4 separate regions of the Homo sapiens genome follow, and all the other regions are linked to region 3. The links come from fine-mapping of genetic effects on gene expression. A gene starts in region 3. Each other region holds a variant in brackets. All regions are shown on one strand. Distances are from middle to middle. Region 1 holds the start of SPATA13-AS1 (SPATA13 antisense RNA 1). Region 2 overlaps SPATA13 (spermatogenesis associated 13). Region 3 holds the start of SPATA13 (spermatogenesis associated 13). Region 4 overlaps SPATA13 (spermatogenesis associated 13).

What was found.
Region 1: its variant is fine-mapped to the expression of SPATA13 in whole blood (TOPMed, PIP 0.98).
Region 2: its variant is fine-mapped to the expression of SPATA13 in whole blood (INTERVAL, PIP 0.91).
Region 4: its variant is fine-mapped to the expression of SPATA13 in monocytes (TOPMed, PIP above 0.99).

What each region holds. Positions count from the first base shown.
Region 1 is chr13:24,247,315-24,255,419 of GRCh38, reverse strand. It overlaps SPATA13 (spermatogenesis associated 13), which reads right to left. Exons shown (of 13, transcript NM_001166271.3): 3 at 5,578-5,943; 4 at 3,558-3,702. SPATA13-AS1 (SPATA13 antisense RNA 1) reads left to right here and starts at 981. Exons shown (of 3, transcript NR_046531.1): 1 at 981-1,084; 2 at 2,221-2,341; 3 at 2,464-2,671. RefSeq lists enhancers at 3,558-3,692, 7,024-7,523. The variant G/A (reference allele first, on the strand shown) is at 3,804.
Region 2 is chr13:24,298,303-24,306,407 of GRCh38, reverse strand. It overlaps SPATA13 (spermatogenesis associated 13), which reads right to left. Exons shown (of 13, transcript NM_001166271.3): 12 at 5,933-6,007; 13 at 1-3,810. The coding sequence ends at 3,635. Among named protein-coding and RNA genes, the nearest start is that of C1QTNF9, 7.2 kb to the left of the region's middle. The variant G/A (reference allele first, on the strand shown) is at 4,476.
Region 3 is chr13:24,156,060-24,164,164 of GRCh38, reverse strand. It overlaps SPATA13 (spermatogenesis associated 13), which reads right to left and starts at 3,445. Exons shown (of 13, transcript NM_001166271.3): 1 at 3,233-3,445. It overlaps MIR2276 (microRNA 2276), which reads right to left and starts at 1,749; the gene lies at 1,661-1,749. RefSeq lists a silencer at 3,495-3,554.
Region 4 is chr13:24,271,504-24,279,608 of GRCh38, reverse strand. The region is part of intron 4 of SPATA13 (spermatogenesis associated 13); the gene reads right to left. Among named protein-coding and RNA genes, the nearest start is that of SPATA13-AS1, 21 kb to the right of the region's middle. RefSeq lists enhancers at 4,339-4,398, 4,699-4,988, 8,097-8,105. The variant T/G (reference allele first, on the strand shown) is at 4,642.

The DNA.
Region 1 (8,105 bases), 91 kb before region 3:
AAGGTACCACAACATTGTGTAGGAGGAACTCTCCAGGGCTGGCAAGCAGAGCCCGACCTGAGCCACCATGACAGAGAAGACAAGGGAGGGCCCTCACTCAACTCCCAGACTCAGGCCTCTTGATGGAGCAGAGCCAGGGAGCCTCAGGGTAGGCATCCTACTACAAGTCTTCTTCCTAGCTTCTCAAAGAGAACTCCTACCATCAGCCTGGTGACTGTGTCCTCAGGACAGGGAAACTCCCGGCGGCAAATGTAAGCAATACTCTTCCCAAGCCTTTCTGAGTAGGAGAGATGGCTTTGGCAAGGCAAGGATTTAGCTCGTGCGCACTCCTGGTTAGGAGCTAATGGCCTGGCTGAATGGCCTGGAGGAATGTGGAAAGAACAAGATGGGCTGAGGATGGGTTTGGGGAAGGAGTATAACTGGCTACCTCAGAATACCCGCAGAGCATGAGATGATGTCCATCCTACATGAATCCTTATTGCAAGAGAGGCTAATCAATCATCATGTGGACATGCTGTCCCAATGTGCAGCTAGATGCCAGTCTTCCTTCCTAGTCATCTTGATACTTGCTCAGTGGGTTCATAAAAAGGAAAAAAAAAAAGAAGCAAGCAAGAAAAAGGCCATGGTGGCAAAAATGGATGCCAAGCCTGGGCTAAACCACAGGAAGTCTGGGCCTTCCCCTCAACAAAGCTGATGATACGGTTCCCCGCAGGAACCAGACAGCCCCTTGCGGAAAGCTGATTGCAGTGGGGCCTTTTCATAATAGAGGGGGTGGTGATTTGTCCCTACTGGAAGGGCCACTTATGCTGGGCTTGGATTTGTTTTCCTGCACTCTGTGGATCCTCTAGAAGGCCCCTATCCTGTCGCAGCATCTCACACGCCATCCAGGCCCAGAACGTCACAGAGAAGGAAGCACATGACCCCATCACACCCAATAACAACCAAATAAAAATGAAGTTACAGAGGCAGCTGGGAGACACACCCAGAAGTTGCCATACTGCCCTGGATGGGACGCAAGCTCTGAAGCAGTGACTAATTTGGAGAGGCTGGCCCACAGCAGAAGATGCAGGGCCGGAAACCAAGGGTAAACATAGAAGCGGCTTCTTAGGATTACTTAATAATATACTTGCAAAATGTTTTCTTCCCACCTAGGAACTCTGCTCTGTTGAAACTGAATTTAGTGCCCAAGGGAGAAGTACTTCCTCCAGAGTTCACAGTCCTGGCCACAGTGAATCAGAACCAAGGCTGGCCATTTTTGCCTCTTCGTACCACTGGGAAAATGAGCACCCACGGAAAATGGGGATGGCTTTTGTGGTCACTGCTACCATATTTCTCAAATGGACTAATGCAATCGCCTTCAAATCAATCTCCATTCCTCTTCCTTTCCCCCCACAAACTGCCCTCCCTCTCTAAGCATAAACCGGAACATAATATGCTCCTGCTGCCAATGGCTTCACACCACACTTAGAACAAGCTCAGCCTCCTCATGACCTGCAGAGCCCTTTCCAGCCTCAGCCCACCTCCCAGCCTGCAACATCCTCGTCTGCCTCTTGCTCCCTGAGCTCCTGTCACTGTGGCCTCCTTGCTGAACCTCAGACACATCATGTTTCCTGCCTGTCTTTGGGCTTCTGGTGCTCCTTCGGCTAGGACTTCTCCTCCCTCGGATCTCTGCCTCACTGCCTCCTACTCACCTGTCCCCAGCGTCACCTCCTTGGAGAGGAGGCTATCTCCCCCACCTGCTCCTACTCCTCACATTACCCAAAGTCATCTTCTGCAGGGCCGTCACTGGTGCCTTGGTGCATCCTACATATTGACTTATGGAATCTGTTCAAATGCTGAAATGTAAACTTTGCATGACGTTTTATTCTCCACAGCATCCCAAATTCTCTATTTCCTTCCTTTCCCTGCCTTGCCATTCTGGTAGGGATGTGTTGCTTAAATCTGCCTCTAGTTAATCAACGCTGAAGAGGCACTGCATGGAACTGGAGGACTAGTTATCCTAAGAGGTCCTAGACTTGGAGGTGTCTGCTGCCACTGATGAGGATCTGGGTGTCTCCTTCTAGGGAAGAGAGAGAGGGTTCATGGAACAGGTGCATCCTGTTCATTAGAGTGTCATTAGAATAACACTCTTTGGAAATGAATGCTCTCTATCCTGTTTTATTTTTCTTTATAGTACTGTCTGCTCTGTTAAATACTTACTTGGCCTGTCTTCACATATAGAAGGCAAGGGTCCCTGGAGACAGACACCCCACCCTTCTTCCTGTTCCAGTACCACCAGGTGGTGGACATATCACCTAAGCTCGGACAGCTGAATCTTCCATCCTGGGACCTGAACCCCTGGGTGAGTGACAGAAAGACAGTCACTAACTCCTAATAAGTTAACTCCTTATTATAACTCCTCCCCAAATAAGTATACACTTCTTCAAGATAGGGTCTTTAATTAAATGTTTTGTATTTTCAAAGCGCTCACTGGATACCCAGATAAAGTGCTCACTGGATACCTCACTAGCTCCTGGGACAGTGCCATGGCCAGTCTCCCATCACACACCTTCCGGTGGCTCCTCCACTCCCAGGAGTGAGCCTGGATGCCATCCCTTCCCTAGCCTGGTTCCCCAGCCATCCCATCAATTCTGGGCACACCTGGCCCCCTTCCAATAAATTCCCTTTTTGCTTAAGACAGCCAGAGTTAGGTTTTGTTGCTTTTCGACAAAAGAACGCTAAAATTAAAACATTTTTAACATAACAACAAAAACCAGTGTTACAGAAAGCAGGGAAAGGCTGTGTGTACACAGGTACGGGGTGGGAGGAGAAGTGCTCTACATTCCTACCACCCTAACAATGCTACTGTTATTTCTGCCTGTTCTTTCAAAATCTTCTGCCATATGGGTACACGTTGCATATTGTTACAAACATGGTATACGTTTTTGATTGAATTGTGTCCCCCCAAAAGATGGTGAAGTCCTAACCCCCAGTACCCATGAGTGTGACCTTATTTGGAAATAGTCTTAGGTAGATAATCACATTAAGATGAGGTCACTAAGTTGGGCCCACATGCAGTAAGCCTGGTGTCTTTATAAAAAGGGGAAATCTGAACACAGACAGACACAGGGGAGAATGCCATGTGAACATGAAGGCAGAGATGAGGCAATGCTCCTACAGGCCAAGGAACACTGAGGGCACCAGACGCAAGGAAAGCAGCCTGGAGCAGACCCTCCCTCACAGCCCTCAGAAGAAACTGACCCTGCTGACGTGTTGATCTCGGATTTCTAGCCTGGGTCTCGGTTCTTTAGGGATCTCCACATGCAGGAATGTATGTACACGGACACCACAGGAGGGGCAAACTTCTCAAACTTAGAGCCACCAGCCTGGCACACAGAGCATCTACCCCAGACAGCAAATGATGCACCATTCTCCTGAGATGAGCCGTCCTCACTCCCAGACAAACGCGCCCTGGCCCAAGGGAGGCGCGAAGGTGCAGAACCTGCTGCCTCAGGTTAGCTGGAAACGGTCAGATGGGCCCATAGCAGCTCTGAAAGGAAAGGGACTCTGAGACTCACCGTTGGATGCTCTCATCTGCCGCCGGCGTCCCACACGGTCCAACCCAATGGGGGTGCTCTGGGAGAATGTGAAGGGCCGGAACCGGGCCGACACAGCCTTGTAGGGTGGCACCTGGTGAGCAGGCATGGGCGGCCTGGAAGCCGGCTGCAAAAAGAAAGCAAAATCTGTGAGGAGGTACCAGGAAGTGGCAGCTCTTGCAAGCACCTCACACGCATAGCGCTCTCACCTCGAAGCCACTCACAGAC[G/A]TGAAATGGTTTCTCCAATCCTGCCACGAGTTGCAGGCTGCACCGAAGCCCAGTGGCAACTCATGATGCTACAGTTTTTAACAATCCTGATCAGCTTACTGGCCCGCACCCTGCAGCCTCATGTTTCATCTCACTTGTCTGCAACATGCCAATAGGTCACACTAAGGAAAAAGAAGCTTCTGAGAAGATGAAGGCACATTTAGGAAGCAGTGGAGTTGTCACACAGATGCAGGGTCACAAGGGTAAGAAGATGCTTTCCCAGGGGTGGCCTCTGGAGGAAGCCAGGACAAGGCCACAAACCCGGCCAGGGTGGCCATCTGTGATCCTCACATCCTTCTTCAGCCTCATTTACTCCTCCCCACCGACACAGAGCCTGGCATAGATGAGCCCTCAGTAAGGATTTGTGGAGCTGAAGGCAAGCCTTGCTTACCCAAACTCACACGGCAGTGGAGCTTTAGTTGAAAGAAGTGGTTTTCCATGTAGTTGCCCAGGTCTCTCTTATAATGCCCTTCTGGTTTTCTATAATAGCGATCCCTAAAACTATTAATCAAAGGCCCAGTTGCTTTATACGTTCCTTAGATTTCTTTTTTTCTTCTTTTGTTTATTACATGCATATCCTGCTTATGTAATTCCTTAGGTTTTCTTACAATTTTCCCACTCAATTCCCTACATTAGGTTATAGTACAGAAAATTACTTCGCACATTCCTTTTGGCTGCTCTGAAGTGAAACCCTTTCTAAGGCTGTGGAGCATCCTGGACTATTGTTCTGAGTTAAAATGCGTGACAATTTGCTTCAGTACAGAATCATTTCCCAACAGCGGAGCACCTTCAGACAAAAGGTTCTTAACATTTTCATGATATTCTGCAACTTAATTTTTTAACCTTAAGAAATCAATTCAATTTATTTAAGCAAGAGTTTTTGAGTGCTTGTTATAGACAAGGCATTGTGTGGGGCTTTACAGGAAAAATGTAGACGTATACAATCCAGTACTAGTACTCCATAGGAGTTCCCTTTTAAGATAATTTTATGGGTTACTTACGACATCAGCTACCAGGTTTTAAAAATGAAAGTGGGCATATATATTACTCATATATTGTTCTGTGAATGTTTACCATGGCCAAGGTATTAGCCTCCACAAATAAGTATACACTTCTCCAAGATAGGGTCTTTAATTAAATGTTTTGTATTTTCAAAGTGCTCACTGGATACCCGGATAAATATTTGTTGAATTACTAAACTATACTAAGAAACCAGTACTAAGTGTTTAATCCATTGTCAAACTATTAATAGTTGCAAAGTTGCAACTCAAAAAAAAAATAAGAAAATGGTGGAAAACAAAATACTTTCTCATCTCCTAAAAAACTATTTCTTCTTTACATTTTATTTATTTCTTCTTTACATTTTATCTTTACATTTTAACAATGAACAATACTGTCTTTTTCAACAATTACTTCTTTCAGGAGTCTTACTAAATATGCCCTGCTACCTTTCCCTGGTTAGAATCTCAGGTTATTCAGAAACAAACAGCAAATGAGTCTCATGTATTATTTGAGATCCCAGGAAAGAAAGATTAGCAAAAGGCATCCAAACGTCAGGTGGTTAGTTTGAATTCATGCATGTTTTCACACAGTCAGGAAGAAAAGGTGGTTAAGTACATGGTGCCGCCCTTGAGAACGGGAGAGAAAAAGCAGATCCAGTTTAGTGTGCAGACAGAATAGAGGCAGGAAGCTGGAGGGCCTCTGCTGGCTTGGGGAAGTGCACACCAGATCTTACTTGGGTCAGAAGATTGTCCAGTTCCTCCGTCTGGTTGGTCCCATACAAGCTGACCCCACCTATCACGGAAATGGGGCGCCTTCTCCGGGCTCCTTTGGGGCAGCCCACTGGAGCATTCTGGTCTTCAGGGCTGGCAGAAGTCATGCTTGCCTGGGGGTCCTCGTCCACACGGTCTTCCTTCTGGGGGTCTGCAGCAACCGAGTCTTCAGGAATAGACAAACTGCGGCTGGCCAGCTGGCCGTAGTCAGAGAATGGCCGAGGCCTTGGCCGTCTCCCAGAGCCCCATCTCCTCTTGGGGGTTCTCTGTGCCTCTGTCCTTTCCTCATCCTGTGATGAGCTTCGCCTCCAGGGGCCATCAGGGACGACCTTTCAAATGCGAACAGGTCAGGTGAGCTCAATATCCAGGAAGGTATTAAAGAAAGAACAAGCCATACATTCCCTCTCACCACCACAGCCGTGCCTCGGGTTTTCTTGATTTACTTGTTTATTAAAACAGTTATTTGTGTACTAGAACATGAAGACACAACCAAACCTTAATCAAAATAACCAAATCTATTCTTATAGGCTGATTCAATAGGCTGATTCTAGGCTGATATTTCAATAACCATAATTGAAATAGTGGTTTGGTGACCAATGATGAGCTATGATAAAAGGCATTAAGAAAATCAGCACTGGCCGGATGCGGTGGCTCATGCCTGTAATCCTAGCACTCTGGGAGGCCGAGGCAGGCAGATCACTTGAGGTCAGGAGTTCAAGACCAGCCTGGGCAACATGCAGAAACCCCATCTCTACCAAAAATATAAAAATTAGCGGGGCGCGGTGGCGCGTGTCTGTAGTCCCACCTACTTGGGAGGCTGAGACAGGAGAATTGCTTGATCCTGGGAGGCAAAAGTTGCAGTTGCACCACCACACTCCAGCCTGGGTGAAAGAGCACGGCTCTTTCTCAAAAAAAAAAAAAAGAAAATCAGCACCATCGTGAATTAGTAAAATGAACTTTATAACTATCATAGGTGTCCCCCAAAGACCTGCCAGGAGAAGAAATGAATGGGTAATGCCATCCACTGCTGTTCTACCCACTTCTTTCAATAACGTGCACTACTTAAAAATAGAAGGTGCTTTAAGAGGACTAAGTCCAGGGCTGTCAGGACCCAACACTCGAGCAGCCTCTGGCTCCCACCAACAGCCTCCAGGCAGCAGTCTGATGGGGCGAGCACTGAACGAGGATTCAAAGAACTAGACTAGGCTACTCACTAGTGGTGTGAGCTGGGACAAGTCACAACTGACCTTTCTGGATCTCAGATTTTGGACTGGACAATCCCACAGCTCAAGAGTCTATGATCCTAAATGAGGCATCACCTTCTAATTTTTTCAGATAATTTTTCAGAGGCAACACAATGTACCAGAAAAGCACATGATGCTGGGAATCGAGCAGACATGTTCAGTCACTGTGTCTGGCCCAAGACCTAGTGCAATCTCAGGCAAGTCACCTAACTTCTGTGATCTGGCTCTGCAGCCATTCCCTGGGAAACAGCAGGTCCTTAGAAGGATGAGACGCAACAATGGTGAGACAGCTCTTATGGCAGGAGTTCTTTGCTGCTCTGAAAAAGCTGGGCCATGGAGTAACCATTCCCAGGGATCAGGCCTGATGAGAGAGCAGTTGTCTGAGCAGACCCCTCAAAGCCTGGCCAGAGAGGAGGGCTGCGTCAGAGACCTGCAGGAGTGGAGGCCTGTAAGCCCTGCCTGCATGCCCTCCGTCTTCCACCCCTGAACCTTACCTACAGATATAAACAAAAAGGGCTGTCAGTCAGGCCATGGGCCCAGGGAGGACAACCAGAACCACCAGAGAAGGCAGACTATGACTGCAGGAGTCCCTGGGAGCTCACAGAGCTTGTGCCGCAGCCCACCGGCTCCCTCCTTGAGAAACCAAAATGGTGGCTGGTAGAGGCAAAGGAGGCACACCTCCAGCCAGTGACAAGAGACCCCGGGCCCCAGGCTCGCCATTTCCAGCCTGAGGGTCTGAATGCTCACTGAGGCCACGTGCCATGAAGAAGTGGATGCAGAGCCCGGGCGGGTGGCTCACGTCCGTAATCCCAGCACTTTGGGAGGCCAAGATGGGCAGATCACTTGAGATCAGGAGTTTGAGACCAGCTGGCCAACATGGTGAAACCCTGTCTCTACTAAAATACAAAAAAATTAGCCAGGTGTGGTGACAGGTGCCTGTAATCCCAGCTACTTGGGGGGCTGAGGCGGCAGGAGAGTCACTTGAACACGGGAGGTGGAAGTTGCAGTGGGCTGAAATTGCACCACTGCACTCCAGCCCGGGTGACAGAAGGAGACTCTGTCTCAAAAAAAAAAAAAAAAAAAGTGAATGTGGAGCAAAGAGCACAGTGTGGGGTTTATAGATACTTTACTCCAACCACTCATTTTTCAAATCAGGAAAACTGGGACCTAAAGAAGTGACGTGACTTGCCCAGGGCCACACAGTTAATCAGTGGCAACAAAGACACAAAACAATGGGCTTCGTGAGT
Region 2 (8,105 bases), 140 kb before region 3:
TCTAAGTTTCTTCTCTCCCTGACAAGTAATAGTGCAGAAATACTCCCCCTAACTCCAGGTAATTATGCTGTTCTATTCTGACTGGGACACCAAGTTGATCTGCATGAAGGAGTATCAGCAATTTGGCTTGCAGAGATTTCCACCTGATAAAATGCTGGTTCAGCTGGCTTTTACAAAATACTTATATTGTGAACCAAATTTTGAATTAAATGCACTTTGCTTTATGTCTAGATAACAGTCATGTAGGATGGGGGGATTTTCTGAATAAGAATGGCATCGGTTTTCATCTAGGCTAGGTATAAAAAGGCACAATATTCAGAAATAGTGTTTGATGGTGGTGAAATGTTTTCAACTACAAAATCAGATCTACAGTGGGAAACAAAAATCAGATCTAATGAAAAGAAACCATGTGGCTGGTATCCCAGGGAAGCTCCAGCATACTACTGCTGCCCTCTTTCTAGTCCGCAGGCCAAAGACAAAGAAATCTACTGCTCCAGGATTCTGCAAACATTCAATTTTATGATTTTATAATTGCTTTTAATCTACGGCAGGGTTTTTATATGTTTTAGGTATGATCACAATTGAAAAGGTTGCTTTTGACCCAAGGCTACTTCAATTATCTTCTAACAAAGTCGACCAATTCTGAAACGTGAAGAATGGAATAGGTGAAATTCATCAAAATGTTATGTCATCTTTTCTTTTCTTGGCCCATCTATAATATTATGTAAAGTAAGGTTAAAAAGAGAGAAAGGCATAGAGGCGGGAGAGAGCAAGATTCCCAATGAAATTCATACACTGTCCATGGAGGAGGCTCTCTGTTCCCTTTCTTTCCAAGTGGAACACGTGACTCAAATCAGGAAGGAAGTTTGGCAAATGGAAGATGAGAATACTTGAGCCTTCCATTCTTGAAGAACTCAGGCATGTGGTAATAAAACCCAAGCCAGACATGCAGATTTTCAAGAAGTCAAAGGATGTTCTAGCCTTTTAAAAATGTTAGCAGTTTTCAAAATCACCTGAACATCCAAGTAGGATCCACCCAGGAGAGATCTTTAATGGAGTGACCCTCACACTCTATAAAACTGACAGGGGCAACGAATTGAACCTGACTTAACAAAAACACATCCTGGTATTCATAAGTCTCTGTTAGGAAGTCCGTGGAGGTAGGTGGGAGCCGGAAGTTAGGGCTCAGCTGGAAAATAAATTAGGACTGGCCACAAAATGCAAACCATTTCTTCATTACCCATGAATAAATATTAGGAAATGGAAGTCCTAAGAATGACTCTTAAACTGAATCCTCACTGAAAATGTAACACAAGCAAATGATTCTCTTTACTTCCTTAAACTAATTCTCTTATATTACATTTAAAACAATTTGTTCAAAATTGCTGTACATACAAACAACTCTAGCAGAGACCCCTACAGTTATTGCTAAGGTGTGCAGGAAAAGCATATTAAGTAGTTTCCAACATATATCATTGTATTTTGTTAGTAAAAAGGTCAGTTCTATAAACACATCTAAAGTTGGAATGTCTGTTCAAGAAGGAAACATACACACACACACCCCCACACATGCCACAGGACCTCTCCAGAAGCTCCTTCCTGCAGCAACTTCTGTCTCAGGACGTGCCGAGCGGCATGATGGTCCACAGAAGCAACTCGGGCTGTCAGCCATGGGGCACCTGAACCCTTAGCAGTGCTGCCTGTAAGCATGTGTGCCAAGGTGGCTCAGAATGGACATCAGGCGGTCACAGAATGTTCCAAGGGTTCACCTGAGGACCAAGGTTATGTTTTCTTGATGCATGATGTCACTCTCAGGAACGGCTCTGGATGTGGGGGGCTGCAGGGGAGAAGGGAGGTGCCACACACCTGCAGACTGAAGAATACACCTTTGTCTCTGACATCACAGACTTGTTTATTCTCAAACATGGGCCTGTTAGAAAAAAAAAAACTGCAGGGATAGCATACAAAAATGAGCTTCTCATATAGATATCCATTAACAGTTTAACACAGCATCTCCTGTCCAGGGCACTGAGCGGGTTGAAAGGGCACCTCTCTTGCAGAGCCTGCCTTCTCTAGACATAGTTAAAAGTTATATCATGAAAATGTACAACATAGACAAAGAAAAGGAGATGATTATCTGCAGGTGTCAGCCTAGGTGGCCTTTGTTAATAAAGACTGCTATCTCTAAGCCAAGATATTTTGTGAAGGTCTTTTTTTATAAAGAACAAGTCCTCAGAAGCCTGATGACATGCTCACGTGACATGGTTATGCCCTGTTTGGCTTTATATGTGATAAAGGCAGCTTCTGATTTCCAAGAAGCAGGACTGCTTTGGCTGTCTTTGTGACTTCATTGCTAAGGACGATGTCAGGAGCAGTGCGGCTCTTTGAGAGTGCCTTCTGACCAGTGCATTTTCATATTCACTGTATCATAAATATTACAGTAAATGAGCTTTTTATATTGCAAACAGTTGTTTGAATGTTTTTTGTTTTTGTTTTTGTTTTTGGAGACAGTCTCGCTGTATCTCCCAGGCTGGAGTGCAGTGGTGCGATCTCAGCTCACTGCAACCTCCGCTTCCCAGATTCAAAAGATTCTCCTACCTCAGCCTTCCCAGTAGCTGGGATTACAGGCATGCGCCACCATGCCCAGCTAATTTTTGTATTATTAGTAGAGACTGGGCTTTGCCATATTGGCCACGCTTGTCTCGAACTCCTGACCTCAGGTGATCCACCTGCCTTGGCCTCCCAAAGTGCTGGGATTACAGGCATGAGCCACAGCACCCAGCCTTGCATAGCAGTTTCTTAGGTTACAGCATGTGGGCAAGATGTGATTTCTGCTCGGAGTTACTGAAGGCGTGCAGGCAGGAGGGAATCCGACTCCGGGACAAAGCCAGTGTGCAGCAGGATTTCTCCCTCCTTGCCTGAAAAGCAGTGGATTCTTGAGGATGCGTAAGTTGCTCTGCACTGAGGACCCTGATGAAGGTGACAGATGCATCTTCTTTCTCTCCACTTTGCTTGCAGGAAGAGGAACCTTGCAGGATGACATTTGCACTACCAGTTAGCATCTGTGTGGACACAGACGATGCCAGGGAACACCGTGGTCAGCCCCACGGCAGCTGTAGGTCCCCCAGTATTACAGAAGAGAGTAAGAGCTCAATTTCTAAGTGTGACCAGACACGTGCAGCATTGTGTCAACCCCGTCTTGACGGCATCCTTGAAAATCAAATGCAGAAGTGATCCTCTAACCTCATCACTCCTTAGGAACTGCAAAGCCCTGGATGCTGTGTTTGGACCTGCAGCAGGCACTTGCTCATCATCAGCAGGGGTGGCTTCAGCTGCTGCCTAATCACTCGCTTTAGAGCATGGTACCGGGTCCCACATCTGGGCCATCTCATAGTGGGTCACGGGTGTTTCTGTGTAGGATAAAGCTTTGTGTCATGACCGTCTCCTCCCTTCCACAAAGGCAGCTGGGTCTCCAAAGACTGAAGGTGATTCCAAGACCTTCTCTCCTTCATTGATCCCTAAAAGGAAGTTTTTATCACTGGGTCCAAGAAACTTTCCCTGGATTGAAGCACACAAGAAACAAAGACAGTTCTTCTCTTGACACCCAGCTCCATGGAAGCACAGCCTCCTGTTTTCATTTCCGGAAGGGGGTGAGCCTGTTGAAGGTGTGCCAGAAGAGCGAGGACTTCCTCTTGGGTTCCGCCAGGCCAAAGACCTGCTGCTGGGGGACGCTTGTGGGCATAGTGATGTGGCGCTGGTGGATGGGGTGCAGGCCCTGGTGCGGTGGGGCCACAGGGCACCTGTTGTAGCCTGACTCGGGAGGGGAGAGAGATGGAACAGGGACTGAGGGTCGCTTGTTAACCAGAAAGGAAAAAAATAAAAATGCTGAGACTCCAAGTCCAAGTTCTCAGCTAATTCTTTTTTTTTTTTTTTTTTTTTTTTTTTTTTGAGACAGGGTCTTACTGTCACCCAGGCTGGAGTGCAGTGGTGTGATCTTGGATCACTGCAATCTCTACCTCCCAGGCTCAAGCGATCCTCCCACCTCAGCCTCCTAAGTAGCTGGACCTACAGGTGTGTGCCACCACGCCCAGCTAATTTTTATATTTTTTTGTAGAGAGCTAATTCTTAATTCACGTTAACCAAAAAGAAGGTCCAGTAGCTACACTTGTTATGTTCAGGTACTCCGTGTGGAGCGTGACACAGTCTCTCTCACTGAACTCTCCCAAAAAGCCTCCAAGGAGGGTATTATGACAACAACTTGACAGGGAAAGAAACTGAATGCCAGGACGTGCAGCGGGAAGTGGCAGAATCTGAACCAGACTGACAGTCAAGGTGAGTAGCAATAAAATGCTCTAAATGGAAGTCTGGAGCTCATGCTGCCTTGGCCCAAATTCTTCTGTGCCATTTATCAGCTGGGATTACTGGGGAAATGATATGATTTCTCTACGCCTTGGTTCCCCAATCCCTAAAACGGG[G/A]ATTACAGTACCTATGGGGTTGCTATGAGAATTAAATGAATTAATAGAAGTAAAGTGCTTAGAACTGTGCCCTCAATATCTAATCACTCTAATCAAAACTTCACCGGCATAGGTATTTTTAATCTGTGCAGAGGTAATTTAGAAGGTTTATTAAAATTAGCGATTAGATTAAAACGTAACTGTGTAAGTCAGCATGGCACGAAGAGGGTGGGCCCTGAAAGCAGGAAGGCCTTGGCTCAGAACCCGTCCCTGCCCCTGGCCTGCCAGAAGGCTCTCCCTACCTCCCGAGGTGGCAGGAAGGAAGAAATCAGATAACCCAGGCACAGCGTCCCACCCGGTAGCCACCTGTGAACGTCAGCAGTCCTTCCGTTCTTGAGAAGCCTGGCTGCTGGGCGAGTGACTCGCAGAAGATATGGACAGAAAACAATGTATTCTAACAAATTGATTTACTAGTCATCTGACATTAGAAGTGGAGATTTAAAAAAATTAATAACATGGGTTTTTCTGCCTTAAAGATATTTGTAACTTAGTGGGGAAAAGAAATTCTGCATTTGCATGGAGAAAGCAGGGGAGTGTTAAGTGTGGTTTGGGGAATCAGTTCTTCACTGACTAAAGGTCAGTGGTCTATTGCAGTCCTGGGATTCGTTGGTCCTTGTTTTTGCATTTGCAGTCAGGAAAATACCAAAAGAGATACATTTCATGGGGTAAATGCCTTTTAAAGTAGAAAGATGACGGGAATAAAGTTTCTAAGAATACAGTGCATATTTTTTGGGGAAAAATCCTTATTACTGAATTCCTGTTGGGCCAGATTATCTGCATCCTGTTGGGCCAGATTTGTGTGGACAAATCTTAGTGCATCAGAGCCCCTGGGTATGCGGCCTGGGCATCAGCATTTTTGAACAGCTTCCCCAGGGAATTCTAATGTGCATGGAGATTAGGGAATCACCGCCCTAAATCAGCTCACGTGTCTTTTTTTGTCTAACTCCTTGCCTGATGTACCGAACCTTTACATCTTTTTCTTACTTAAACTAGACTATATCCAGCCTACAGCTGACAAGCAGTTTGGGGTTTGAGATTTTGTCCTCTCATGCCTAAAAGATGCAAGAGTCCTTGGTTTGCCTCAGACTGGGGATGTGCGTGACCTTGTGGCTAACACCATCAGCACTTGGGGGAGGGGAGCAGAGGGGCCCCAGGCAGGCAAGGAGGTCCACCACCCTCCAGCAGCCCCTCTGAAGGTTTCCTATGCCCACATTCCAATGGAAGCAAACACTGACGCACATTCAAAACCAAACACAGGCCACCTTCACCTGGCCCCTGTTCTGGACCTGCCCTTGAGTTCTAACTTCTACTGTTCTCCTTGCTCCAAGCTGGTCACAGGCTGACAACTTGGGGTATGCTCCCATTTTCAGGAGAATACTGATAAGCATTAAGGGGACAAAGCCTTCTCCATAACTTACCTTTTGACTTTCCATGTCCTGCCTTTTGAGCATTTAACATGGCAAGTTTCTTCTGGTTTTCTGAAATTTCCATTCCTGCATTTAGAAATAAATGTGATATATATTCAGAACACGTGGACATGTTTCAGAGCAAAACTTGTATCACAGCCCATATCAGCATTGAGGTTATCACCACAACCTGAGACAGAGAACCTTAATCCTCAAAGAACGTGGACAGGTTGAAGATCAGAAAAGGGGAAGTCACAAGGATTATCGCCAAGGTGGCCATGTGATTGTCCTGCAAACCCGGACAGTTTGGAGAGTGAAATGGGGTGGTGCTCATGAGAATGCAGAATGTCTGTGTGAAGCCCGACGCTCCCGGGCAAATATTCCCACAGGGTCATCCCAATTATAACCTAAAGGATGAGGCCCCAGAAGGAGAGGACAGAGCAAAGGGTCCCAGGGCGTGTTCACCCATACGCTATGAGAGCTTTGCACGTTAGCAGTTCCACCCTGAACAAAGGTACCACGTGAGTAGCAGGTAGCGGATTCTGTACCCCAGCTGTGTGTAGTGTGTGCCCTGAGCATTCCCTCACTGTAAAGTCCAGTAGCACAGTGACAGTGTACGTGTGCAGTGTGTGAACTGGGTGAAACAAGAGTCACTGGAAAGACAAGATGAGGCAACCCTTGGCTTCGCAGGGTGTGGGGAAGGAGAAGGAAGGACAGAGCTGAATGGCCAGGGCTGGGTGCTGGGGCCCTGCCTTCTCCCGCGGGAAGCCTTCCTCCTGTAGGCAGGTACTCGCTCCAGCTTGGCAGAGCTGACCCAGGCCCTGTGTCTGCTAGCTTGCACTGCCTGGCTCGCTCCCGAGGCTCCCTCTCTACCTCTGCCCACTCTGCTCCCCTGGCCCTGATTCCTTCACATGCCCAACATCTGTCCCAGACTGTCCTGACGTCAGGCTCAGGCTCTGTACGCTGGCCACCGGGCTGTCCCTGCCTCCAAGGCCCTCCGTGTCCATTCTCTCTGATCTGCTACCTGAAGCTTCTACCCACACACATGCATCAAGTACGAGGGCTGCCAAAATATTCGAGGCAAGGAATGCATCCAGTTTTATCCCACACGTGCCAGTTCACAGACTTACTGGCTCAGGAGTGCCTCAGTCATGCACTTGCATCTCTGAGCACTGGCCACAGGGAGCATTACATGGCAAAGGGCACCACATCGGGCCCCTCCTTTCCTTCCTATTGAGAGACACTGTTGAAAGCACATAGGATGCCCCCACTAAATAGTGCCGTCTTTGGGAATCCAAACACTCTGACTTACAGATGACTTCAGGGCCTGCGCTAGACAACGTCATATGACGACTAAAACTAAGATTTTGTGGCTCTGTCATTTTGCATTTTAGTAACTGTCATCTTCAAATGAATTCTGGGCACGAGTGATTAGCCCTATTCCAATGGGGCCCCAGAGTCTGCACCAATAATCTATGGCTGTTGCTGGGAATCAGATTTCCTCTTAGTGTAAAGGACACCCTGACACTTGGTGTAAGGGGCTGCCTGTGATGTGGGGAGCTCTGTATCTTGGAGTGGCCCAAGTCCAGGCCAATGTCTACCCATTGAGTGTTTCCAAGTCGATCCCTGCTTCCGTTTTAGCCTGACCAACTTGTAAATCCCTCCAACTCTACTGCAGAATCTCACAAAACCTCCTGTGGGTGAGACCAAATTCTGTAGCCAAGCTTAGAGCCAGTGGCTGGGGAGGACAGAAAAAGCACCTCCTGGTTTTTAGTCCTGCTGTCCTCATGGCAGTGGGCAAGGATGGGGAGGGGCGTATGCTGGCTCCCCTCCGTCCTGGACCATGACTTTTGAGGGCTGGGCTCACTTGGGCTGCAGAGATGAATATCCTTCACTGTGGCTCCCTGACTTCCATTCAACAGATTGTGCTCAAAACCCTAAAGAGCTTGGGAGGCAATGAAATAGAGGCTCAGAGACTGTGGGTGCTGCCATCATTAATGCCAGGCATGGCAGCTTCAGTCTCAGGGGCCACACTGCACCTCCAGGTCAGCAGAAGCTGGGAAGACAAACCAAAGAAGTACAAATGTAACACTGGGTGTGAAGTACCATCGCCTTAACTGCAATGGACGATGCGGCATCCTGAGTTTCATAGGGAGAGATGGGAAGCATGAGGGCAGGCTGCTGG
Region 3 (8,105 bases):
CAAATGTAAAATACAATTAAACATTCCAGGTACTGATTTTCAAATTGCCATGTATTATATAGTTTCCCTCAAGAAAACCATGTACATTTGGTGTTCATTCCTGGTGTTTTAGAAATAACAATGATAGTTCTTTCTAAAACATTTGAATTTATACCACTGTGATGTTATGATCCCATTTATGCTATTACATGTCTCATAGGCAAACATTTCTTAAATGTTTAGTTTTCAGACAAAAAAGAAAGGAAAGCACTGATGAGTTCCCCTTCTAAGTGAAACCTTCCAATGCCTCTTAGCTCAAGGGAAAGGAAGGGGAAAGAAACTTTGTTGCTTCCAGCAGCAAACAGAGAGGTCAACCTACCAAGCTATAGGGCCAGGCATTGAGCCCTGAACCAGAGAAGCCTTAGAGCCAACTTTGTCCTGCTGCTTTCCCTTGAATATGCCATTTTATTTCCCTGGACCACGGTTTCCTCATCTGTAGAATATAAAGTCCCTTTCAGCTATCAAGGTGCATGCTCTGCTTCAGTATCTGTAAAGTAGAAATACTACTTGCCTCCAACTCTTAGGAAGATAAAGACTAAAAAAGAAATGTTTGGACAAGGCTTTAAGATTACATAATGAAATGGATATAAATAAGACTCATACAGTCACACAGCTAACAGAGACCATAAAGATCTGTCCAGCTAAAGTGAAACGGAACTCTCAATGCACGGGAGGAGACAGCTGGCAGTAGTCTTCTTTTTTAATTTAACTTAATTTTTTTAGAGACAGAGTCTCTCGTTCTGTCACCCAGGCTGCAGTGTAGTGGCAAAATCATAGCTCACTGCAGTCTCAACCTCCCAGGCTCAAGAGATCCTCTCACCTCAGCCTCCTGAGCACCTTGGACTACAGGTGAGTGCGCCATCACAACCAGCTGATTTCTTATTTTTATTTTTTAGAGATGGGGTCTTGCTATGCTGCCTAAGCTGGTCTTGAACTCCTGGGCTCAAGCAATCCTCCTACCTCGGCCTCCCAAAGTGCTGGGATTACAGGCATGAGCCACTGTGCCCAGCCAGGTCATTTTTATGCCACTTTCTTCAGGGCTTCCTGTGGCTAAGAGGGAAAGTAGACTGATAGCATGGATGAGGTGACAGCCCAGGCACTGGCCCCAGGCTTTCTGAGGGACAGCCGGCATTAGGTTTTTCTCCATGCACTGTCCTACAGGTATAGAATTCATGTCCTCCACTGGTGTACATTGCAGACTAAATAAAACATGTCATATAACAACCTCCTTTCCAAAGCTAAACTCCAGGCATGCCTGAGTTCAAGAGGTCACCCAGCAGGGAAGCTCCACTGTCTGGTGAGAAGAGGGCCTCCACTGCTAGGCAGTGGCAAGAAGCCATGCCGGTTACCTCCTCTGAGCCTTCCTTTTCTCATCTGTCAAATGGGGACAGTAGTAGATCCTACATTATAGGGATGTGTGGAGGATTTTAAATGAGTACTGATGCACGTTAAGCCCTCAGAACAGTGCTTGGCACACACCCAGAGTTTGGTAGATGCTACCTAACATCAATATTGACATTAATTCTAGAACTATGTAGAGGATACGACTTCAATAAGAAAACAATCAGTCAGAAGCAGTGGCAGAAGGGAGGGTCCTGAAATCCAGAGTCCTCCTGCAGAGATGCAGCTGCCACTCCTCGCCTCTGACACTTGCAGACATTCGGAGAGAAAGCCGTCTGCAAGGTGACAGAGGGCGGACTGGAAGAACACAAGGAACCCAGGGATGCTGATGGAGCATGGAAAACCGCAGCAGAAGGCACTGAGGCAAGGTGTGCCCTCCAGGCGGGGCAGGCTGTGGCTGGGCAGAGCGCCTGCCAGGGAGAAGTAGGGCAAAGGGAAGAAAGCACCTGTGGGAGAAACATGGGGAAACAAGGAAGAAACCTGCATATGCACGGGAGCACAAATAAGGAAGGAGATGGGAGAACTGGGTGGAGGCAGATGGCAAACGTGGGGGCCAAGGGAGGTAGATGAGAATTAGGATATGGGATAATAAGACAAAGCCACATGAAACTCTAAAGTGCGGGAGGAGGGCAGAGAACAGGGAGGGTGCATGACAGGCACCCCGAGAATAATGCAGTGAGGAAGTTTGCAAGACGGGGGAGGGGGACATTAGGAAAAAAGGAGAATTTGTTGGGAAAGGTGGAAAAAGAAAAGGAGTGAGATTTCTCCGCCTGTTAGCAAGGGGAATAAAGGAGAGCAAATCGCTGGGTGACCAGGAAAGGTTCACAGAGAAGAAAACACGAGGCAGCAAAAACCGAAGGTGGGGACAGAGAAAATGCTGGCAGGGGGAGGTGCATAATATAAGGCTATGGGAAGCCATGGGAACAAGAGCTGAATAAATTCACAGTATTATTCTATTTATCCACATCCCTATGCAATGCTGGGAAGCAAATGACCCACAGGGTTTTGTTTGCTTGCTTTGGTTTGGTTTTCCTGCACTTGGAGGGAGGGGAAATTTGCTCAAGCTCTGTAACCTTGCAGTCAGATGGGTGGCCCAGCCCAAGTCACCCGAGCTCCCCCTGACGCTGGCAGCAGCGCGGGCTTCTACCTGCCTGGGGCTGGAGTACCAATTCCCCCACCTCCTGCACAGAATGGGACCAAACCAACTCCGCCAATGCATTCCCTGCAGTCCACAGACGATGGGCACCGGGTCCCAAAATCTTTCCCCTGGGACGAGACTCCGCTGGTACCAAGAGAAACTTGCTTTCTAAACTAAGCTCTCCAACCGCATCGCTCCGGGTCCCCGGAGGCACCAGCCACGCCACCCGATGGAGCAGAGCGTTACAGGGCTCCGCCGCGCCAGGCTCCCCAGACTCTGCCACCCCCACGGCCGCCCCTGTAGGCCAGGCCCCGCGAGCTGGGAGCGCGGGTGAAGTTACAAGGCGACCTCCCTGCAGGCTTCCGGCTGGAAACGGCCTTTTGCGAGAACACCACGTGCATGTCCTCCCAAAAGCGATGGTGCCGGGTGGCCCAGAGGGCGCAGAGCCACCGCCGGGCAGGGAGCGGGCGCACGGACCTAACAGGTGAGCACCCGGTAGCCTCCACCGGCGGGGGAAGCAGAGGCCAAGCAGCTGGGAGCTGGACATCCCGAAGCCCCGAGGCAGTCCACTGGGACTCAAATCCTCCCGATATTCTACCTAACAGCCCATGCCCGCGCCCGCCCGGCAGAGCCGCGCGCCCGAAGCCGTCTTACCTCCTGCGGCGCCTCTTGGCGGAGCCTACAAAGTCAGCGTGTCCAACACGTCCCTGCCCTCAGAGCCACCTCCGGTGCCGGCGGAGCCCCGAGGTCGCCGCACTCTCGGAGGAGCCTGGGATCCAGTGCGCGCCCTCGGAGCTAGCGACCGGCAGGGCGATCGCGGGAGAAAGCGCAACGCACACTCTCCTCCCGCGCCGCGGCAGCACACTCAGCCAAGCCACGCCCCAGCCCCGCTCCCCACCAGGCCACGCCCCCAGCCCGGCTCTTCCCCCCGCCCCATATCAGGCCACGCCCCCGGTTAGCTCACTCCCTCAGGCCACACCCTCGGCCACGCCCCCACACTACCAACCACAGCCGGGGACCCCACCCATCAAAAACAGTTCCCCGGCCAGGCGCAGTGGCTCTTGCCTGTAATCCTAGCACTTTTGGAGGCCGAGGTGGGCGGATCACCTGAGGTCAGGAATTTGAGAGCAGCTTGGCCAACATGGTGAAACCCCGTCTCTAATAAAAATAAAAATTAACCGGGCGTGGTGACAGGCGCCTGTGATCCCAGCTACTCAGGAGGCTAAGGCAGGAGAATCACTTGAACCCGAGAGGCGGAGGTTGCAGTGTGCCGAGATCGCGCCACTGCACTCCAACCTGGAGGACACAGCCAGACTCCGTTTTTTAAAAAAAGAAACAAACAAAAATAGTTCCCTCAGCCACCAGCCAGCCCCCACCCCCCAGGGCGGGAAGAGGAGTCTCATCTCCGGGGCAACCGTGCCCCACTGCCCACTGCCTGGGCCAGAAGTTCACTCCCTGTGAAAGGAAAACGCAGGGTAGGGATTTTTAAACCTACATGTTTCCCAGGGCCTGGGGCAAGTCTTGAGTAGACTGTTGCAGTAAACCGACTCAAAGGCCTATCACCTTTCTTGTGAGGCTCAAGGCCTAATCATTAATTGACATGAAAACCACAGAAGAGAAGCAAACCCTTCTGTGCTGGGATCTGTGCCCCAGTGCTCCATGTTCCCTGATAGGCAGCTAATGGAATTCATAAAATAAATGCATGCTTTCTACCAGTGTAGTTTTTTAGATGATTCATTTAGTGGCCAGCACTATTATTTATAAATGTCTATTGTCTTTTATAATCAAAGAACAATACCCACAATCTGTAAAATAAAAAACAAAAATTATATTACCCAATGAAAAGTGAAAATTAATTTTATGTATGTTTTTTAAAATATTGAAAAAACTCTGTATGACATTATAATGGTGGCTTCATGTCATTATGCATTTCTCAAAACTCACAGAATGAACAGCATGCGGCGTGAGCCTCCTGTAAGTAATGGACTTAGTTCATCTTAATGTAACAACATGGGCCCATCAATCATAACACATGTGCCACTCGAATGTAAGATGTCAGTACAAGCAGCTGTGTGTGGAGGGAGGGGCGTGAGGGAGTACATCAGAACTCCGTGTACTTTCCATTCCTGTTTTCTAAACCTAAAACTGCTCTAAAAATAGTCTATTAATTAAAGCACACTCCAAGATTAATGATAATTATCTGTGGGTGGTGGAAATATGGGCAAATTTTATTTAATTCTTTGAATTGTTATTGAAATTACCCCAAGTTTTAACAATGACCATGTATTTTTAAAGCTGAAAAAATATAAAAACCAAACCTTGGAAAATTTTAGAAACATAGTATGTGAGGCTAATATCATTGACTGTTCCATTTTATTTCTACTCTATAAAAAATCTGCACAAAGCACTCACAAATGCTAAAATGAAATCTATGTTAGTATTATTTAAAAAAAAATATCACGGTCTAAATTGAGGGTTTTTTTATTATCTCTTTAGAATTAGCACAAATCTGAGGAGCAGATTTTGATTTTTCTTTTAAAAAAATTGTGTTTCAAAAGGTTATTTCTGCCTACTTGGAAACCACTATTAACATTTACATGCAATACTTTTTATAGTGAAGAAAGCACTATATTTGAAACTATGTCCTTGGGAAACAGGCCTGGCCCTCAGATGAATGGATTTCTGTGGAGTGATACCAACTAGACCTGAAGACCCCCGCATCCTTGAGGCCCTGTACAAGCCCTGGGCGAGTGCTGGACCTTGCTGAATCTCAGCTTCCTCGTCAGTGAGCCGGTGACAGTGGGACCTCACTCTGCATTGGGTGGAGAATTAAAACTTTAGCCCATGTAAGACTCTTACTATCTATCAACTTAGCACATACAGGTGCTTGCTGATTGTTTGTTTGTGAGTTTTAAAAAATATTTTTTTCAGGGTTTCAGTGAAAACCTTTTGAGCGCCTGGGATAAAAGATATGTCTGGGTTCAGATTACAAATCTATTAGAGGAAGGCAGGATGGCTCAAGAGAAAATTCACTGATCTGACATGAAGAGGCGGCGCAGTCCAACCTGGCTCTAACCAGCTGTGTTCATCACGGGAGTACATCACCAGCCGACGCTTATTCTTGCTTTTCCATTCTGTTAAGTCAGAGATTAGGACGAGCAATAGCTAAATTTCCTTCCATTTCTACCATTCCTGCGGGAATCACAATGTGGCCTCTGTGTAAAAGCCTAGGTCTCCCGCAGTGGCTTTCTGTCAACATGGCTCTCTATCCACATGGCCGCCATCACTCACAGCCTCGCAGACAAGGCCGGCATCTGCATTCTGTTGTTTCCTGCAAGTGGGAACCTCCAAAGGTCGGTGACCTCTTTTCTTCTCTGCTGATCTTTTGGTACTCAAGACTCTAACTGGAGCCTGAATATTCAAAACTTTCACCCAAGTTCGTCCTAACAACACTGATGCTTTCTGCAGGAGAGTGTCTAAGGATAGAAACTACCACCTCTCACTAAGTCTAACGCGCTTTTTTTGTTGTTGTTCCACATAACATCTCCAAAACTAGAATGTGTCTTTCCCTTAATATTTGTTGGACACTTATGCCACGTTGTTTACATTCATCATTTTCTTAAATCCTCAAGACAATCCTTGAGGTACAGTTATCCTTCTCATTTTATATATGGGGCAAATGAAGTTAGAAGGGTTGAACGAATCATCTGAGGTCACACAGCTGGTGAGCAGTGGAGCCAGGATTTGATCTCATGCTCCTGTTTGAAAATGCTCTGAACAAAGCAGTGCTGTGAGCTCCCCCAGGGTTGGGGAGAAGCAATGCTGTATTCCATCTGCTGAAAGTTCCATTCAGCAGGGGTTTCTCAAGAGGTACAGGGCAGAAAGGAAACTCCTTTCTCCTCATTTCAGTTTTTTTTCTTTGAGGAGCTCCTATAAAGTAACCCGTATGGCTTCCGCCCCACCCTCTACTGCAGAAAAAGGAGTTACCAGCCGGGCACGTGGCTCACGCCTGTAATCCCAGCACTTTGGGAGGCCAAGACGGGCAGATCACGAGGTCAGGAGATCGAGACCATCCTGGCTAACACGGTGAAACCCCGTCTCTACTAAAAATACAAAAAAAATTAGCCGGGCGTGGTGGCGGGCGCCTGTAGTCCCAGCTACTCCGGAGGCTAAGGCAGAAGAATGGCGTGAACCCGGGAGGCGGAGCTTGCAGTGAGCCGCGATCGCGCCCCTGCACTCCAGCCTGGGTGACAGAGCGAGACTCCATCTCAAAAAAATATATTAAAAAGAAAAAAAAGAAAAAGGAGTTACCTGACTGGTTGGAGAAATCCATTGGTAGACTCCCTTGATAGAATAACCTGATTTATTAATTTATTAACAGCACAGAGTATTCACTCTTTTTTAACCTTTCCGCCCAGACTACGGCTGGGAGAAATCTGCGGTCAGTGTCTGGATGCCACAGACCAGACTTTCACCTGGAGGAAGTAACTTAAGGTCTAGACCGGGTTAGGGAAGCAGAGGCAAAGGAGCTGGGAGGTCACTCAGAGATCATTAGCAACAATTGTGCACTCATTCTCCAGATGATTTTGTCAGTAATATCACTGACATTTTTATCTTCATCTAGCAGCCTCCAGCATCTTGTTGGTTGTGAAGGTGGCAGGGGACAAAAGGGGGTTGGTTGAACCACAGATGCCTCTGGCACATAAGGCAAGACCCAAGAGAGCAGGAGAGAACCTGAGCCTCTTCTGCTCTCTGTCCATGTGGGTTCTAGGAAAACTTCATAACCTCACTTTGACCGGCTCCTTATCTGTGATATCTTATGGTGAAAATTAAGTGTAATAATGTATGTAAAGTCCCAGCTCACTGCCTGGCACGTGGTCAAATGCTCAATAACTGGTGGCTATCATTGATTAGAATGGATAAGGTGCGTTTGCTATATTTTATTCTACAGTTTACTAGAGCAGATCTCTCTCTAATTTGAAGCTTCCTAGGATGACAGAATAATGTTTGGCATTTATCACATTATCTTAGCACATAAGTATCTATTTGGCTATTGGGGTGCTGGGAAACCCAATTAATTGAGGCACAGAGAGGAAAGCATTTTGCCTCCAGGAATGGGTCATCAAGGCCAAAGGACTAGAGTACAGATGGGGTGGGCCAGGAGCCAGATCCAGTGTGCCATCTACGGTGCCTCCCTGTCTGCTCGGAGACAGGGCCCCCATCACACCTGGGTTTGGAGGGGGGAATACGAATGGGCAGGGCAGCTACAGGCAAAAGAGGAGAATAAACGGTCTCACGCTGTCCTCACAGTTGCTGTGGACAACAGGTATGGCAATTCCTCAAAAATCAAAAAACTAGAATTACCGTATCATCCAGCAATCCCTCTTCTGGGATATACCCAAAAGAACTGAAAGCAGGGACTCGAACAGATATTTGTACACCCACTTTCATAGCAGCAGTATTCACACAGCCACAAGGTGACAGCAACCCAAGTATTCATCAATGGATGGATGAATAAACAAGATGT
Region 4 (8,105 bases), 120 kb before region 3:
GTTCCTGAAAGTGTCCAGGATCTGGCTACCTCTTACCCCTCTGCCACCACTCAAGCCTGGGTCCCCTCCCACCACTTAAGCCTGGGTTCCCATCCAGCTTCGGGCTCCCTCCAGCAGCCCCTCCTGGTCTCCCTGCTGCCACCCCTGCCCCCGGCAGGCCATAGCTGCCAGAGCGATGCTGCCAAACCATTCCTAGACTGGATTGTGTCACTCCTCTGCTCAGAATCATCCACAGGGGAGACAGCCAAAGTTCTTGAGACCTCTCCCCAGATACACTGTGCCTCCCACCCCTCTCCAACCAATGGGCTCTTGGCTGCAAAGACCGCAGGCACTCCTTGCCCAGGGCCGCTGCTCCGTGTGCCTGACAGCCCTCCCCAGGTACACACACACTGGCTCCCTCTCTCACCTTCACCATACCACTCAAAACCACAACCCTCACTCTCACTCCACTGTCTCCCCTGGTTTAGTTTTCTCCATAGCATTTGTCACCGTCTATAATGTATTCTGTTCACTATCCAGAATGTAAGCTCCAGAAAGGCAGTAATTCTTGTCTGCTTTATTCTTAACTGTGTTCCTGCCTGGCATACATGGGAGGCAGGGAAGGAAGGAAGGAAGGGAGGGAGGGAGGGAGGGAGGGAAGGAGGGAAGGAAGGAAGGAGGGAAGGAAGGAAGGAAGGAAAGAGGGAAGGAAGGAAGGAAGGAAGGAAGGAAGGAAGGAAGGAAGGAAGGAAGGAAAGAAAAACAGCATGTGGACTTCATGCAAGGCTTTGGGGTCAGATGAACTTGCCTTCAAATGATAGCGATGCACATTTTTTTTCTTTTCTATATTTTTCTTTTTTGAGTATGAGTCCTTGGTCAAGTTTCTTTCTTTGTTTTTTCACCTGTTGAATGTGGATGATAAAACCCATCTCTCAGGGTTGTTTATACATTCTGAACAAGTACTTGTTATTGGTGTGCTTTGAGCCTCAAGTGGAATGATGATACATGAAAGCACCCTGTAAATTGAAAAACAGTATAGAATTGCAAGATGTGGCTGGGCGTGGTAGCTCATGCTTGTAATCCCAGCACTTTGGAAGACTGAGGCAGGAGGATCCCTTGAGCCCAGGAGTTTGGGACCAAGCTGGGCAACATAATAAGACCCATCTCTATAAATTAAAAAAAAATTAAAAATAGAATTGCAAGATGTTATTTTATCAGGTGCCTATAATGTGCTAGGCACTGATTTAAGCTGTGGAGATGAACCGGCTCATATAATCCTCATGACAATGCTACATGGGAGGTACTGTCAGTTGTCCCCACTTGCAGATGAGGAAACTCAAGTCCCAATAACACACAGCTGTGTGCAGCAGGCTCAGGCCATCTAACTCTTACCCACTGGGCAGAACTGTCTCCTCCAGCAGTAGCTGTTACTTGTAATAAGACAAAATGATATTAAAAACAGTGTTAGTATCCAAATCTGTGTGTTTTGCTCCCATTCTGGAGAGCAGCCGTATGTCCTGCCCTCCGTTCCCTCACTAACCCTTCCTTCCAACTACCAATCCCTGCTCCCAGTGGGGCCTGTCAAGGACCTGATTCCATTTTCTGGTTGTATCCTTTTCCCTTCACCACCCTAACTACTTTCACGATTTTAAAGTCCCTTAAAGTTAATGACTCCTGTGTTCCTGTCCCATAATTCAAGTGTGTTTTATGGAGTGGGATTTCTCAGTGTCTGATGTCTAGACAGGAAGAATCTTTGTGCTATGCTTTGATGCTTCGTCCAGGCCTGGTGGTTTTCTATGATTCCCCACGCTTACTGTCTAGGTCGCTTACCATCTTAAAGGACAGGACAGACTTAAAGGAAAGGACAGACGTTTGATTTTTGTCTTCCCAGCCCCTAGCATAGTACCTGGCATACAGAAGGCACTCAGTATGTGATTTCCAATTGAACTGCAAATTGCTGATGTGGAAACTGAGGTTCCAAGAAGTTGAGTCATTTATCAGGGCTATACAGGGGCTGGGTCCGAACCAGGATAGGAACCCAGGTCTCTCTGACTCCCACCCCTGTGCTCATCTGAGATTCTAGCTAGAAAAATCCCTCAGCCAGTCTTCATGACTCTGTTTCCCTCCCCAAGCCATCCTATATATTACTTCCAAGGTGAACTTCTTCTTTTTTTTTTTTTTTTTTTGAGACGGAGTCTTGCTCTGTTGCCCAGGCTGGAGTGCAATGGCGCGATCTCGGGTCACTGCAAGCTCCGCCTCCTAGGTTCACGCCATTCTCCTGCCTCAGCCTCCCGAGTAGCTGGGACTACAGGCGCCCGCCACCACACCCAGCTAATTTTTTGTATTTTTAGTAGAGACGTGGTTTCACCATGTTAGCCAGGATGGTCTCGATCTCCTGACCTTGTGATCCGCCCGCCTCGGCCTCCCAAAGTGCTAGGATTACAGGCGTAAGCCACCGCGCCCGGCCCAAGGTGAACTTCTTAAAACAGTGGTTTTATGATGTCACAAGAAATGACATGCGAGTTGTCTATTGCTTCATAACAAAATTCTTTTACGGTATATCTTCTCTGTAATCTGACTCCACTCTACTTGAACACTTTTTAAAGTGTCACATACTCTCAGTAGACATTGTTCAATTGAATTACGAATTGCTGATGGGGAAATAGCAATTTGCAGTTCAGCTGAAAAATCTTAGATGTAGTAGTCCACAGCGTGTCAATGCCAGCTCTGCTGGGCAGAGTTCCTCACAATGGCCAGACCCACAGGCCGGTGCTGCTGCCTTCTTCACCTCTACATGTTCCATTCCTCACTAACTTCAATAGGCTTTGAACCTCAACTACAGATGAAAGTTAATAATGATGACTTCTTATCTAAGGGAATTTTGACGCTGTAAAGCTATTATAAATTCTCAAAATGTATGTCACCAAAATCAGGAGAAATGAATGTATTATAATAATTAAAAAGTAAATTTTATTGTTTCTTTCTTCCTTTCTTTTACCATCTTAACCCTTTTTAAGCACACAGTTCCAGTTCAGCAGTGTCAAGTATATTCACACTCTTGTACGACAGAACTTTTTCATCTTGCAGAACGGCCACACATATTAAACACCAACTTCCTCTTCTTCCTCTCCTGTTCCTTGGCAACCACCTTTCCACTTTCTGTTTCTATGATGTTGACTACTTTAGATACTTCATATGAATGGGATCATACAGTATATGTCCTTTTATGGCTGGTTCATTTCACTAAGCATAATGTCCTTGACATCCATTCATGTGTACCAAGTGTTAGAACTTCCTTCTTTTTAAACACTATATAATATTCCATTGTTTGGTTAGCACTTCCATTGATTTTTAAAAAAGGAAAAAACCAAAAATATTCCATTGTGAGTATACACACCACATTCTGTTTACCTGTTTGTGGGTGAACATTTGGGCTCCTTTTACTACTTGGCTATTGTGAGTAATGTGCTACTATCTTTTTGAGACCCTGCTTACAACTCTTTAGCATACTTGATCAAATGGTAGTTCTAGTTTTAATTTTTGGAGGACTCTCCATACTGTTTTCCACATGGCTGCATCATTTCACATTCCCACCAACAGTGCGCAACAGTTCCAATTTCTCCACATTCTCACCAACCGTAGTTTCTTTTGTTGAAAAAATTGGTGTGGAAAAAACATTTTTTGGGGGAGGGGTGAGGGACAAGGTCTTGCTCTGTCGCCCAGGCTGGAGTGCTGTGGCGCGATCTCAGCTCACTGCAGCCTTTGCCTCCAGGGTTCCAGAGATTCTCCTGCCTAAGACTACCGAGTAGCTGAGATTACAGGTGCGTGCCATCACATCCAGCTAATTTTTGTATTTTTAGTAGAGATGGGGTTTCGCCATGTTGGCCAGGCTGGTCTCAAACTCCTGACCTCAGGTGATCCACCTGCCTTGGCTTCCCAAAGTGCTGGGATTACAGGCGTGAGCCACTGCACCTTGCCCAAAAAGCCATTTTTGGAAACGATCTTGTAAACAAGAAGCAAAGACTGCTCCAAATTGAAATCAGTTTTAAAACCCCAAATGCCTACATACAATCAATATGAGAGCAGACAGAGCAGGCTCTTTCTACAACACTTCCCGCAGCTTCAGTCAGGTAGAAGGAGCACACCCTTGGTCATCAAAACTGCGTGCTGACCATCAGCGCCTCTCTGACTGGGGACAATTCCAAGAGAACACATCTGTTCCACAGAGTACTATCAATTCCAAAAATGTAATAAAGTGAATTTATAATGCTCTTGTTCAATAACCATGGTTAACCATCACTCCTAGAAACACTGCCCTCTGGGGGCCCCTGATTCCTGGGGCTGCATTGGTCCTTCCCCAGTCCATCCCTTACACAAATGTCTCATTTTCCTCCCCCTCTCTGCTTTCCTCCTGGCTGCAGCTGTCAGTGAGTAGAATGCCCCAGTCCCCATTTTCAGCCCTGGCCACTTTTAGCTTTAGGAACTACTACAGAGAACAATGTGGTAGCCATAGAGGAGGTGTCATTTTTTTAAATTGGAAGGATTGTTACAAATACAGTTAGAGAAGACATCAGGAAAAAAAAAGCCCCTGACTGATAAGTGGGGGAGGGTAGTCCTGGTGAGGGTGTGATAACAGGGTGGAGGTTGAGGTGTTCTGTTAAA[T/G]GAAAGGGAGGTGAGATCTAACACAGCCCTTAAACATCAGGCACTTGACAACAAGGAGACATAGATTTAGCTATTTTCATGAGGCACTCTCCAACACTGCCTAGCTAATGAGCAGCTGGTTCCCGACCAGCATCTCCCACCCAGCATCACTCCTTGGTGGGGAATTTCCCCTCCCTTGACTTCAGGGAAATTCCCCCACCCTTAAAATAATCTGCTAAAATCATGTATTTGAGAAAACCTCTTGCTGATGGCTCAGACTTCCTCAGAGTTGAGATAAGCCATTCTGACTTCCCATCTTAAAAACAGAAATGGCAAGCCCAGGCGGGCAGCTCGTGTTCACAGCTGGGAGCAGCTGTCACGGGCTGCTGCTCTGTGGGCTGAAACTATGGGTGAACCCCAAGAGCTCAGGCCACGGAGATGCACACAGAGGGAAAGAGCTGGGTCACAGGAACTGACAACGTCAAAACATGATGCACAATTTCCAGGGTCCATCCCCCTTCAGTGGTTCCCAAACACCCAGGGCCTGTGGCATCTAATCACATGGAAAATGTTTAGAAAAATAAAGATCCTCCCCTGCCCTGGGCCACTGAGTCAGGTTGGGTGGTGGTAGTGGGGAAGGATGTTGGCTGAGAATTTATTTTGAAAAGCTCCTCAAATGATTCTGACACCTGGAAAAATTTGGGAACCACTGGACCTTCAGGTTAAGCTTACTTAAACCACACCACATGCTCAGGTTGTTCTAGGACATATGCCTTTTGTTGCCTGTCCATGCAGCAAGCCACAAGTTGCAGGCAATGGATTCTGATTGCATTGGCTGGAAACCTCTGCGTTAGCCAATGTGTACCACTGAATGTTCCTTATTCCAACGAATAGGACAAAATCCTTCCATCCGTCCACGCTGACCTCTCCGCCTGGAGCAACTTTCCCACCCAAAACAGCCCATCAAATTCTGGCTCATCCCTCAAAAGTTTAACCATTGGCCGGGCGCAGTGGCTCATGCCTGTAATCTCAGCACTTTAGGAGGCTGAGGCAGGAGGATTGCTTGAGGCCAGGAGTTCAAGACCAGCCTGGGCAACATAGCAAGATCCCATCTCTATTTAAAAATAAACTTAAGGAAACAAAAACCAACCAAACAACAAACAAAAGTTGTAACCATCATTGCTTGGTGACGGTTCCATGACTTATTTTTCAGTTCCCTGATCCTCTGCCATAACAATATCTGCCTTTGATGTTCTATAAACATGTTAGACTAACCTCTTTTAAAATATGTATCGCATTTACATTATAGTTATTATTAAGTTTATATCTGTCCCTTTATATCCTGTCCCTACTCTTATCCTAGCTATGACTTTCTCAAGGACAAGGAACATGCTTAATAGTCAGTGTTGGGTGACTGAATTAAAGTATGAAATATGTTTCATGTTCCAGAATGTAAACTGTTAGTGTTGGAAAAGTCACTAGTATATCTAATCTAGACTTTCAAGCCATTCTTCACAAATAGTATTTTTCAATCTTTTAAACATGTGGACAACAATAAGATCAAAAGGAATCCTAGAAACTGACATATTAACTCTCACTAATAATCTGTTATTAATGTCTAAGGAGCTTTGAAGAATCATTCTCTTAATGTATAGCTTCACATCAGTATTCAACTTAGGGCCCTGCACCCTGGGCAGCCAACACCCCATTGGCTCCAGACCCCACAACCAAGCCAGCAGCTCCACTCCCTCCTGCTCTCAAAACTCAGCCTCTGTCCCGTCTCCAGTTCAGAGCTGGGGCGTCGTTGGCTCTGGGCTTCTTTGTATCTTGCGGTGAGCTCTTAGGTTTTACCTTTGACTTGTCCCACAGTGCCTGTCTTCTGTTCCTAGCCAGGAGCTGCTCGTCCTGGGGCTGCTGGCTCTGAGCACGGCTCCTCCCGTCCATCCTGGCTGACACCTGCCGATCCATCCTGGGCCCTCTCCTCTGCTCTGCCGCTCCCTGACAGCTCTCTGGGCTGGTGTCTCGTCAGCCCTCCCAGTTTCTGACGGCTGCCCAACTGGCTGGACAGACCTGAGCAATCACCCATCCGGCTTCCTGGCATCTTAATGTGCGCCAGGCACTGCGCTCAGCGCTGGAATAAATCCTCTTGAGAGCCTCACAAGCATCTTGGAGTGTTGCTGTCTGGTTATGAAGGAGGAAACCGTGGCTCAAAGATGTTAAGTAACTTTCCCCAAGTTGCGGGGCTGGATTCAAAGCCAGGTGTGTCTGCCAGCAAAGCGATCCTGCTATGAGCCTGTCTCAGGCTCGGCTTCAACTCACACTGACAGGAGAACAGGACAGGACAGCATAAGATGGCAGACAACCCATAAACCCGCCCTCCCTGACATGGCGTCCTCCTGGGAGCCACTAGGCAGTCCCTCAGGGTCTTTCAGAGCCCCACAACCCCTCCCCTGCCCCCTGCCCTCTCAGAGCTCTCAAAGGAAAGAAAACCCACCATAGGCAAGCTTTATTATTTGTTTTAAATATGGTGCTTGTTGTCATTTTATTACATGTATTCACTCAGTATAGCGCATATAGGAGTGGCAACAGTTTCCGCAGTGCACTGACCCAGGCCCCTCTCAGAGAGGCAGGTGAGGGACTGCTGTAGAGGGTCAAGGCCGCAGAGGGCAGATTCTGGCATGCTGTTTCTCCAGCAGCACCGAGGGAGCACCGCTCAGAGCTGGAGGCTGGGTCGGGCTTCCCTCGGCCTCCCCTGTGTGGAAGGCGGTGGAGGAATGCTGGAGGAGAGCCAGGGGCCACCTGCCCCCCACCCCTGCCCGTTCGTGCTGGCTGCACTCCCGGTGGGAATGAACACGCCCCTGCTCAAGGCCATGGGTGCAGGAACCCTGGGAGGGAGCACCCGCACGTCCGCTTCCTCCACCCAGGTCTTGCCAGTGCCGTCTCGCTAGCATTACCGAGCCCTCTCACTCATGTGGTCTGTGTTCTCAATATAGAAATCGCCAGGCAACTTTTTTTTTCCTTTTTCTAAATTTTGGCTCGTAAAATGGAGTACACACCAGTCTTGTTTTGATAATCCACCAGACACAGAAGCCGTAACCACATCCCTGCTTTCTGTCTGTCAGCAGCACAGAAACCAATCAAAACAAGGAAGAAAGCACAGACTACAAACTGTACTGCTCTGACAGGGCCCCAGGCTGCCTCGAGCTGCCATCTACGGTTCCCATTCATTTCAGGCGAGGCGCTGGCATCTATTTAGGGCAAAAACAGAGACAAGATCTGTTTCTAAAGCATCCTATTGTATCCATGTAGTGCAGCCAGGGAAAAGCCTGTCTGTGAAGTCTTGTTTTTTCTTACTTCCTTTTCAGAATGTGAGGATTAGAGTTTATGGCTTCCTAGTGTGAGAGTACAAAGTTTCTTTCACATTTAAATAGTCCAAATAGTCCAATACTCACAGAATAGACAAATAGACAATACTCACAGAAATA